3 linked regions of the Homo sapiens genome follow. The protein of the gene in region 2 purifies or fractionates together with the protein of the main gene of each other region. This does not show direct contact. Each region holds a gene or a part of one and is shown on either strand. Other genes may lie near its edges. The genes, in order: PPP1R2, GSK3B and EPB41L3.

The links.
Region 1: the proteins of GSK3B (region 2) and PPP1R2 purify together in Homo sapiens (affinity purification with mass spectrometry; 6 studies listed by BioGRID and IntAct, with this or other methods). This does not show direct contact.
Region 3: the proteins of GSK3B (region 2) and EPB41L3 purify together in Homo sapiens (affinity purification with mass spectrometry; 4 studies listed by BioGRID and IntAct, with this or other methods). This does not show direct contact.

The regions. Positions count from the first base shown.
Region 1 is NC_000003.12:195,515,624-195,519,378, reverse strand, and holds part of PPP1R2 (protein phosphatase inhibitor 2), read left to right. Parts: intron 1-193; coding exon 194-361; intron 362-2,436; coding exon 2,437-2,483; 3' UTR 2,484-3,755. UniProt on the Homo sapiens protein: Inhibitor of protein-phosphatase 1.
Region 2 is NC_000003.12:119,821,731-119,825,485, reverse strand, and holds part of GSK3B (glycogen synthase kinase-3 beta), read left to right. Parts: 3' UTR 1-3,755. UniProt on the Homo sapiens protein: Constitutively active protein kinase that acts as a negative regulator in the hormonal control of glucose homeostasis, Wnt signaling and regulation of transcription factors and microtubules, by phosphorylating and inactivating glycogen synthase (GYS1 or GYS2), EIF2B, CTNNB1/beta-catenin, APC, AXIN1, DPYSL2/CRMP2, JUN, NFATC1/NFATC, MAPT/TAU and MACF1.
Region 3 is NC_000018.10:5,418,373-5,422,127, reverse strand, and holds part of EPB41L3 (band 4.1-like protein 3), read left to right. Parts: intron 1-2,196; coding exon of another isoform or gene 2,197-2,250; coding exon 2,251-2,417; intron 2,418-3,755. UniProt on the Homo sapiens protein: Tumor suppressor that inhibits cell proliferation and promotes apoptosis. Modulates the activity of protein arginine N-methyltransferases, including PRMT3 and PRMT5.

The sequences.
Region 1 (3,755 bases), about 76 Mb from region 2:
TAAATATTTTAAATTTTGCAGGGCCCAGTGGTCTCTATTACGAACTACTCAACTCTGCCATTGAACACAAAAGCAGCCTTAAGCATGACAAAAACAAATGAGCATCACTGTTTCAATAAAATTTTATTTATAAAACAGGCATGGGCCAATCCTTGAGCTCAAACTTCCTAAGTTTACATTTTGCATCTTATAGAAAAAAAGCGACAATTTGAAATGAAAAGGAAGCTTCACTACAATGAAGGACTCAATATCAAACTAGCCAGACAATTAATTTCAAAAGACCTACATGATGATGATGAAGATGAAGAAATGTTAGAGACTGCAGATGGAGAAAGCATGAATACGGAAGAATCAAATCAAGGTTAGATGTTTGGAAAATGTCACTGAGACTTTTGTAATGGTCTATGCCTAAGATAATGTACTTTATTTTGCTTTAAACTTGTGAAAAAACAGAAAATTTTGCTGAGATTCGCTTTATTATACCAAATGTTTCTAAAGTTTTAACCCGCATGGCCAATTTCAGAATAATAAAGTTTTTATACCTAGAGTTGATTTGATTTTAGACCATATGTTTTATTATATGGCTTTCTTATGGTTTACTTGCCTTTAGGCAAGGATGTTTGTCTTCATATTAAGCTATATTTTGTTTTGAATATTTTAGGTCATGTTGTATTTGTCATAACGATCTAAAATTTAAAATTTTTAAATGAAACTTTTTTTTTTTTTTTGAGACAGAGTCTCGCTCTGTCACCCAGGCTGGAGTGCAGTGGCGTGATCTCGGCTCACTGCAAGCTCCGCCTCCTGGGTTCCCGCCATTCTCCTGCCTCAGCCTCCCGAGTAGCTGGGATTACAGGCGCCTGCCACCACGCCTGGCTGATTTTTTGTATTTTTAGTAGAGATGGGGTTTCACCATGTTAGCCAGGATGGTCCCAATCTCCTGACCTTGTGATCCGCCCGCCTCGGCCTCCCAAAGTGCTGGGATTACAGGCATGAGCCACCGCGCCCAGCCTGAAACATGTTTTTAGTATGGAAGATTTGGTTTTACATCCCGTTAGATACAAAGTATGTCATATCTTTCCAATACGGATTCTTTTGACTGTTGGATTGACAAGTTATTTAACTGTTTTTGTTTTTATTTTTTTTTTAAGTCTTAGACACCCAGCCCCTGCAGCCTAGCAACTCCTGATCTGTCATAGGAAATAGGTTTTATTTATTTTTTATGAACTGTTACTCTGGTATTTAATGAAGTGAATCTTCTGCATCACTAATGGAGATTTTTTGTGCCCACCACCTACTCCTTGTACTTACAAACTTCATACTTTTCAGTGGAGGCGTAACTGATGTTATTTGTGGTGCCCAGAATGGTTAAGTCTTAGGAAATTAAATAATTATTGTATTACCATTTTGGTAAGCATAGTATTAAATATGAATAATTCTATGATACAGCCTGATGAGTTGCTGTCTCATAGTGTCAGGATTACAGTACTTTTTGTTATTCCGTAATATGCTTCAACCTTTTAGTCTATTTCATATAGCCTTTCATTTCCATTATATATCCCATAGTCTGTTTAACTTATATTTAACTTGAGCAAACTTCATCTTACATAGTAGCTGTGGCATGTTTTTATTATCCATTTTTATTTTTATTTTATTTTTTGTTATAGAGGCAGCGTTTTTTGTTTGTTTGTTTTAACGCCATTTCTTTTGAAAAATAACTATGGCATTTTGTCCGTCTCTGCTTATAAGATATTACATTTCACATATTTAGTACATAAATATATTTTTTGTTTAAGTTTAATGGAGGATTAAAATTTTGTATTAGGTCAGTGCCTGATTTTTCTTCACTGGAGATGAAGTACACCTTGCAAAGGAGTATATCCTGCTTAGCATTATAAAACCCACAAGAATAGGATAAGACTTAGGGAAATAAGTACCTTATTTACCCCCTACCCTTTTTGGGCCCTTAACATTTTACCAGCTTTTCAGATCTCTAAGTTCTATAGAACCCATTAGTTTTGGGACAGTGCCAGTCTCCTCCCTTCCCCCTTTCCTCCCCCATTCACACAATTCATTGGAGAAAATGACATGTTTGGACTCTTAGGTGATATTTTATAGCTTTCAGGTAATAAATATGTATCTTTTTATAGCTCTGGATATTGGAGTTGTCGTAAACTCTTACCTTTCCACCTGTGACTTACAGAAATGTTCAATCTGAAACCTGTTTGTTTTATCAGCAAGTAGACACTTCTGTTCTTTAGACTATTTAGGGGAGTGTATAGATTCTTCAATTTCAGTCTAAATCAGCCTACATGAAATATACCTTATTTGTTTTTAAAATTTTTATATTTGCTTGTCATGCATGCTAATAGAAGGGAACTTTAGCCAGGGTTGACAACATATAACAAATTATGTTGACTTTTTCTTTTATCTTTGCAGGATCTACTCCAAGTGACCAACAGCAAAACAAATTACGAAGTTCATAGACGAGATTTGTTCAACACTGCAATTGTTTGTTAGATGTAAACCCTGTGACTATAGTACGTTGCTTCTTGTTCTTCACAATTCATGACTTAAGTACCAAAATGCATACCAGTTATTATATATTGCCAAGAATTAAATGATAAACTTAGAGACTGATTAGACTGAAAATGCCTAATCGATATATATATTCTTGTGCCTAGTACTTTACCACAAATACAGTGTAATATCATCAGTCCAAAACTGCATTACTTTTGTAAAAACACTGGTTAATTTGTATAAGATATTATAGAGCTTTTTATGCTTTAGAAGTTAAACAATATCTTTGGGGGGGAACTAATTTATTTTCATCACTTGAAATGTGGTAGCTCTTACAAAGTTTATTGATTTGATTTTTTTAAAAATCAAAAGCCAATTGAACAACAGGATATATAGACTGATAAATATTTAGGCTGAATAGTATTTTAACACTTGTCTTCAACTTGATTTGTCTGTTTAATTGAAAAGAATTATAAGAGTTACTGTTGCATTTTCTGACCTACTATTTTTAAAATTCCTGTTGAGTTTCTTTGTGTTTACAAGGAAAGGACTGAACTTTTTCTCATCAAAACTAGCTTTTTTCCCCACAAATAAATTATCAGGTTAAACTTTCACCAATGTCTGCTCTGTTTTTTGTTTTTGGGGGGTTTTTGTTTGTTTTTGTTTTTTAATGTTTTTGGTACACTGGGCAGACTTCAGAGCAGTTTTTTAAAAAAATAAATATTCTAATGTAGCTATCTCGCCATTCCCTTTAAATACCTGTCTTAACCTCCTGCTTTTCTTTCCTACTCCTTTCCACACATACGCACACAATCTTCTACCTTTTAAAGGATCATTAAGACTGTCACCACATTAGGAGCTCTTTCTCTCACTCTTCTGTCATTTGCTGCTATGTTGAAATTCTTATTTTGACCATCAATGCCTATGAATTCTTCTAATACGTGAAGAAAATAGTTTGAGTAGCAGCAGTGCTATAGGTGGGAAATACAGTTTAGCTGCTGAATTTCTATACCTCTCTGATTTACAGATTGCTAATTAAATGGCTATTATTAGTTTGGATTAATTAGACTTAAGAAAACAACTAACTGAGGGTTTTTTTTGTTTGTTTTTTGAGGGTTTTCTTTGCATGAGAATTGTATGTAACCAGTGATATGATTATTCCTGAATGTACAGACAGAAGTAAGCCTGGACATTGTTAAATAGTCCCTGCTTTAAGGGACTACGATAATGTGTACTAT
Region 2 (3,755 bases):
TTTTTTTTTGTCTACAGTATCAAAATTGACTGGTTGAAGCATGAGAAGAATGTTTCCCCCACACCCAGTTAAGAGTTTTTGTGTCTGTTTTCTTTGTGTATCAGTGAACGATGTTAAGAATCAGTCTCTCTTTTTGAAGAAAAAGCAATATTCCTTGGAAAGCAAGGAGAATTGAAGGACTATGTTTGCCGTGAGGAAATAGATTTTCATGACTAGTTTGTTTTATACTTTTAAGGTTGGCATCTATGTGGGCCTTATATACTCTAAAATGAACTTTAGTCACCTTGGTGCTTATGGGCCATTACTTGACCTATGAATCTTTAAGGCACAATCAGTTGTACTTTACATTTAAAGATCACTTGAGTGATGGCCGCCTTTCCCTCCTACCCGCTCCTTCCCCACATGCCTTCCAAGGTTAGCTGGTAACTGTAGGGCTGCAGAGCTGAGCCCATGGTTGTGTGTAACTTGCCCTCACCCTCCTCATTGCCACCTTAGGTCACTTTATGGGTCTCGTCCTCCAGAGGGTTCGGAAGTGGAGTCTGTTGGCAGCCCTCCTGCAGGCCCTAGCACCCTGTCCTGCTCCTTAACTGTGTGTGTGACTCTCCAAGAGAGTTGTCCTGCCTGCTGAAGTGAACCAGTACCCAGAAAGACAACTGTGAGCCATCTTGGTTTTCACTCGCTGTTTAGCTGAGGTCTTGGGCCACAAAAGGGGTTTCACAAACCTCTGGATATATCAGAGTTTATGAGAAAGGAAACATGCTCAGTCAAACCAAATCAAACAAATTGAATTTTATGTTTTATAAAGTGCTTCTGAAAGCTAAGATTTGAAAGAAGTCTGAAATCAAAGTATTTGGCAGCATAACTCCTTAAAGGTAGTGGCGTTGATAGACCATTTTCAGACAGAATTTATAAAGAATCTGAAAAGGCAGGTCTGTGATAGAGAAATGGACCTGCATTCAGATCCAACTGCCCAGCAAGCGTTTGGATGCAGACACTGCTCTGGACGTGGTATACTCCCCAGAGTCCATAAAAATCAGTGCTTATTTTAGGAAACAGGTTGCCCCCCACAACTGGGGTAAAAGAAGAGAGAAAAGTCACGCTTTTCTCTCATTTCATTGTGTGTGCATGTGTGCGTGTGTGTGTGTGTGTGTGTGTGCTGAGATGTGTGATTTTTCTTTCTCAAGGATCATGGTGGGATCACAGAACTCTTTTATACAAGTGAGATCCAGGTCTCTGAATATCTTTTTGTATATAATAATAATAAAAAGCTCCTCACCAAATTCAAGCTTGTACATTATATTTTCTTTCTGTGTTTTTAAATTTAAGTTTTATTGTTTTGTATGTAAATATGTGGACCCAGGAACTGTTATTAATGAGCAAAAAGTTACTGTTCAGGGCAGTGATTCTGTTTAATAATCAGACAAAATGTAGACGAGCTTTTTAAAGCCATATAGTTTTAACTCTGTACAGTAGGTACCGGCCTGTATTATTGTAACAATAACTCTAGCAATGTATAGTGTATCTATATAGTTTGGAGTGCCTTCGCTTCCATGTGTTTTTTTTTTTAATTTGTTCTTTTTTAAATTTTAATTGGTTTCCTTTATCCATGTCTCCCTGTCCACCCCCTTTCCCTTTGAAATAATAACTCACTCATAACAGTATCTTTGCCCCTTCCACAGTTAAGTTTCAGTGATACCATACTCAGGAGTGGGAAGAGGAAATCATATTCGTAATTTCATTTCGTTGAAGCCCTGCCTTTGTTTTGGTTCTGAATGTCTTTCCTCCTCGGTAGCAGTGAGACCGGTTTCATTTCATACTTAGTCCATTCAGGGACTTAGTGTAGCACCAGGGAGCCCTAGAGCTGGAGGATATCGAATAGATTAAATTTTGCTCGTCTCTTCCACAAGCCCTAACCATGGGTCTTAAAAACAGCAGATTCTGGGAGCCTTCCATGCTCTCTCTCTCTCCTCTTTTATCTACTTCCCTCCCAAATGAGAGAGTGACAGAGAATTGTTTTTTTATAAATCGAAGTTTCTTAATAGTATCAGGTTTTGATACGTCAGTGGTCTAAAATGCTATAGTGCAATTACTAGCAGTTACTGCACGGAGTGCCACCGTGCCAATAGAGGACTGTTGTTTTAACAAGGGAACTCTTAGCCCATTTCCTCCCTCCCGCCATCTCTACCCTTGCTCAATGAAATATCATTTTAATTTCTTTTAAAAAAAATCAGTTTAATTCTTACTGTGTGCCCAACACGAAGGCCTTTTTTGAAAGAAAAATAGAATGTTTTGCCTCAAAGTAGTCCATATAAAATGTCTTGAATAGAAGAAAAAACTACCAAACCAAAGGTTACTATTTTTGAAACATCGTGTGTTCATTCCAGCAAGGCAGAAGACTGCACCTTCTTTCCAGTGACATGCTGTGTCATTTTTTTTAAGTCCTCTTAATTTTTAGACACATTTTTGGTTTATGTTTTAACAATGTATGCCTAACCAGTCATCTTGTCTGCACCAATGCAAAGGTTTCTGAGAGGAGTATTCTCTATCCCTGTGGATATGAAGACACTGGCATTTCATCTATTTTTCCCTTTCCTTTTTAAAGGATTTAACTTTGGAATCTTCCAAAGGAAGTTTGGCCAATGCCAGATCCCCAGGAATTTGGGGGGTTTTCTTTCTTTTCAACTGAAATTGTATCTGATTCCTACTGTTCATGTTAGTGATCATCTAATCACAGAGCCAAACACTTTTCTCCCCTGTGTGGAAAAGTAGGTATGCTTTACAATAAAATCTGTCTTTTCTGGTAGAAACCTGAGCCACTGAAAATAAAAGAGACAACTAGAAGCACAGTAGAGTCCCAGACTGAGATCTACCTTTGAGAGGCTTTGAAAGTAATCCCTGGGGTTTGGATTATTTTCACAAGGGTTATGCCGTTTTATTCAAGTTTGTTGCTCCGTTTTGCACCTCTGCAATAAAAGCAAAATGACAACCAGTACATAAGGGGTTAGCTTGACAAAGTAGACTTCCTTGTGTTAATTTTTAAGTTTTTTTTTCCTTAACTATATCTGTCTACAGGCAGATACAGATAGTTGTATGAAAATCTGCTTGCCTGTAAAATTTGCATTTATAAATGTGTTGCCGATGGATCACTTGGGCCTGTACACATACCAATTAGCGTGACCACTTCCATCTTAAAAACAAACCTAAAAAACAAAATTTATTATATATATATATATATATATATAAAGGACTGTGGGTTGTATACAAACTATTGCAAACACTTGTGCAAATCTGTCTTGATATAAAGGAAAAGCAAAATCTGTATAACATTATTACTACTTGAATGCCTCTGTGACTGATTTTTTTTTCATTTTAAATATAAACTTTTTTGTGAAAAGTATGCTCAATGTTTTTTTTCCCTTTCCCCATTCCCTTGTAAATACATTTTGTTCTATGTGACTTGGTTTGGAAATAGTTAACTGGTACTGTAATTTGCATTAAATAAAAAGTAGGTTAGCCTGGAAATGAAATTAAAATTCACAAGTGTGTGGTCTTTATTTCAGTACCCAACCCTCTTCCTTCACCCTACTATTTTGCCGCTGCAATATGTAGTCACATCACCATTTCCATTCCTCTAATTAGGGAAACATTAATCTTTGTTATACAGAACAAGATATCAATACCACTTCTTGTTCTTTCCAATGATTTTATTCCATTGTGTAGCCCCAAGAGGTGCAGCTTCCACCTTGGAAACCTTT
Region 3 (3,755 bases), on a different chromosome or scaffold from region 2:
GTCTGTTTTAGTCATCTGTATAATAGGAATAAGGCCGCCTTTGACGGGGCTGTTGTGAAAAGCAAGATATATGTGAAAGCACTCTTGTTACATAGGTAATTATCTCAATAATCATATTGATAATTACTCTTTTTTCACATTTTTTTAAAATTTCAGTAGCTTTTGAGATACAAGCAGTCGGTTTTTGGCCACATGGCTGAATTGTATAGTAGTGAAGTCTGAGATTTTAGTGCACCTGTCACCTGAGTAGTGCACATTGTACCCAATATGTAGTTTTTTATCCGTCACCACCACCCCCGCCACTGTCTGCCTTCTGAGTCTCCAGTGTCCATTATATTACTCTGTGCCTTTGCATACCCATAGCTTAGCTCCCACTTATACATGAGAACGTATGGTATTTGGCTTTTCATTCCTCAGTTACTTCATGTAGAATAATGACCTTCAGCTCCATCCAAGTCACTTCAAAATACATGATTTCATTCATTTTTATGACTGAGTAGTATTCCATGATGTATATATACCACATTTTATATTCATAATTATTCTTACAGGCTTTTGTGAGCTAGCCTAGGAAGTTAATTGCCATTGTGTGTCTTCTAAGAGTTTCCAGAATACCGAACTTAGAGCCAGCCCTTTTGAATAAAATAATTACCAGGACTGTTTCGAGCTGAATTAAGATATTGAAATATCGATGTTAACATTGAAGCTTTTCTTTCTGGTTTATCCTATTGACTCTTGTTTCTCCTTTAGAGTGTCTCTATTACCTATTTCTATATGTTATCAGTATTTGAGGAACTTTGTAGAATCGCACTTTTTTTTTCCTGAATATCATCCACTTTGTTCAGTGACGTGCACCCCAGGGAACACATTTGTTGTGAATGTTGTTTTCCTTATGACCTTTAGTGTGATAATGACTGCTGAGAAGACAGAAGACAATTGTGAAATCAGTGTACTAATGTCATGCTGTCTCTTTCTCCCTGCCCAAAAGTGATGTTAGTATGTGTTGTCTCTCACTCCTTGCGGTCCTGCCAGCTCTAGTATGTTTTCTGCTGCTGTTGAGCTGGGTGGCACAGCTGCATGTTGCAACATAAACTGCTTTTTTGCAAGGTTGCATCTCACAGAGAATGGCCTAACTGGTCCATTAGGAAGTTGTGTCTCATATGAGCTTTTTCAACGGTGTAAAGAGATATAAAATGTCTTAGTGAAGATATTTTAGTGACATAGTTTAGCTATCGAAAGCATTTCAGAGAGGATTTCATTTCAGAATCCTTTCTTTTATTTACGTTTTTAAATTCCTAAAATAATAATGTAGATATTTTGTCTGTGATTAGTTACTGTGTATTTGAAAAGCAACATTTATAAGTTTTAATAAATTTTATATCTAAAACCTAAAATAATGAGTACCAACTTTTAAAACTTAATTAAGCATCTTTTCACTAAGACGTTTTAGCTGGGATGAAAGGCTCTGTCTTATTCTCTTGAGTTTGCATGTTTTGCATTTGCATGAATTTCATTTAGCAACATTCATTGTGTTTTCCCAAAATATTAGAGATGAGTAAATGTATATGCATATTATGGTAGTCTGTTTAAAATGCAGTAGAAATGAAAACATTTCTGTACTTTAGGTGAATGGAATTGCCATCTGATTTTTATAATCTCTACCAAGATGGTTAATATTTGTTATTACCCATGGAGCTTTTATACTGTAAGAGTGATAGACTTTTCAACATTAATAATAATAATATGAAAACCAATTCAGTGCTCCTTGGTGAATGGCACTTCCAAAGAGCCAAGTGTATTAGAGCAATTGTGTACTGCAAAGACTGCTGTTAGGTGTGGAATTGGCCACTACGAGACTGGTGCCAGTGCCAGCCAATGGTGATAATATGCCCAGCGGCAGCCTCGCCTCATGACCCTCCACTCACCTCCACACTTACACACATCCTCAGCAGAGAGTCTGAGGATAGATGAAATTCCAAGACATGAGCATTTCACGAATTTTAAAGCACTCATATAGGAAATACAGGAAGGTCATGCTCTCATGAAGGTCCCTGCAGCACTGATTTGTTTTTTCAAGGCAAACCTGGTATTTTGTGTTGGTATTTTTTTTTTCAGTAAAGATATAGTTGGTATTGTTCATGTGTCTTCTGACCTAACTATTTTGGATTTTATTTCTTTAATTGTATTTGCTTTTAGCATCAGTGAATGAAAACCATGAAATATACATGAAGGATTCTATGTCTGCTGCAGAGGTTGGTACTGGCCAGTACGCCACAACAAAAGGCATCTCTCAGACCAACTTGATCACCACTGTGACTCCGGAGAAGAAGGCTGAGGAGGAGCGGGACGAGGAAGAGGACAAACGGAGGAAGGGGGAAGAAGTCACGCCCATCTCGGCCATCCGGCACGAGGGAAAGGTATAGCTCCCAGACTGCCTGCAAGAGCTTGCTCCAGCTTTTAAGAATGACTAAATGATGCTGAGGCTGTAAACCAGGAATGTGCTCAGATTTAGGATAAATCATATGTCAGCACTGGTCACATTCATATGTCAATTTTTAAATTATGATTGCTGTTTCAACATTTTTTCTCTGAAAGGTTCATTCATAGCTCTTTGAAAATTTTTATTTTAATAACTTGTGTGCTATGTAAGACTTTCAATAGCTGTCCTGTATGTGTATCTTAAAAATACTTTTGGTGGCGTATTACACTTTTCTGTTTGGGCTCACATTTCAGAACTGTCACTAAAGCTGTTTTCTTTGTTTCTGGCCCCATTCTCCTACCCAAGTACAGCATATTTTTCTAGATATACAATTATCATATTGCCATTCTTCTGACTGTAAGTACATGGAGTGACCACAGCCTACATATTTATACTTACGCCTAATCAGCAGAGTAGTGACTGGCCATGTTTTGAAAAGGGATCTTAAGGCAGAAAGTTGCAACAGGAGATAAAAAGGGAATTTGGCAGCAGCTTCTTCTTTCAGTGTTGAATTCATTAAACTTTGTAACATTGTTTCACCCCAAATTAAATATCTTTTTTAACACCATTTTTAAACACTATGTTTTTTTCTGGTGATCCAGCACTACAAAGCAACTTTTCAGAAAAATAATTTAAAAGTCAAAAAACCCTTCAGGAGGCTTATACCTAATAATAAGGGAAAAACAGAGTGGCTCCTGGCCTGTACAGAGCATAGAGTAAGAGGAAATAGCAGAATGAAAATGCTCATAATAACCCATGGGTTATCCTAAAATTTGAGTAAATTTGATTCACGAGTGATCTTTTGTACATGGGCTCTTCAAATAGAGATGGAGAATCACTACCCCGAATTCTATGGAAAGTGTTCCTTTTGATGAGAATTTAGCAGTGACATCTTAACATAGACAAATAATTTTTGTAGTTATGCTAAAATATTACAAATGGCCCAATCCATCATCTTTTATTTTTTGGGATAAGATTATTTATTTGGCAAACACAAAATTAAGCAGAGAGTAGGAAATAATGGCAGGGATATTTCGATAACTTTTGCTGTTAAAATGTGCTTTGTTCTAAATTTTGTTTTTACACTCTTCCTGTCTGTTCAGTCAAGGAAGGCTTTAAAGGGGACAGAAAAGAATATAATCCACCCAAAAAACAAATATGTGGTTCTTCTTCTTAGTTATTCTAACATTTTATAAACTCGCCATGCCAACATAAGATTCCCATGGATGTATAAGTATTGAAGAAGTGACACATCAATGTAAGTGATTTTTAGTTT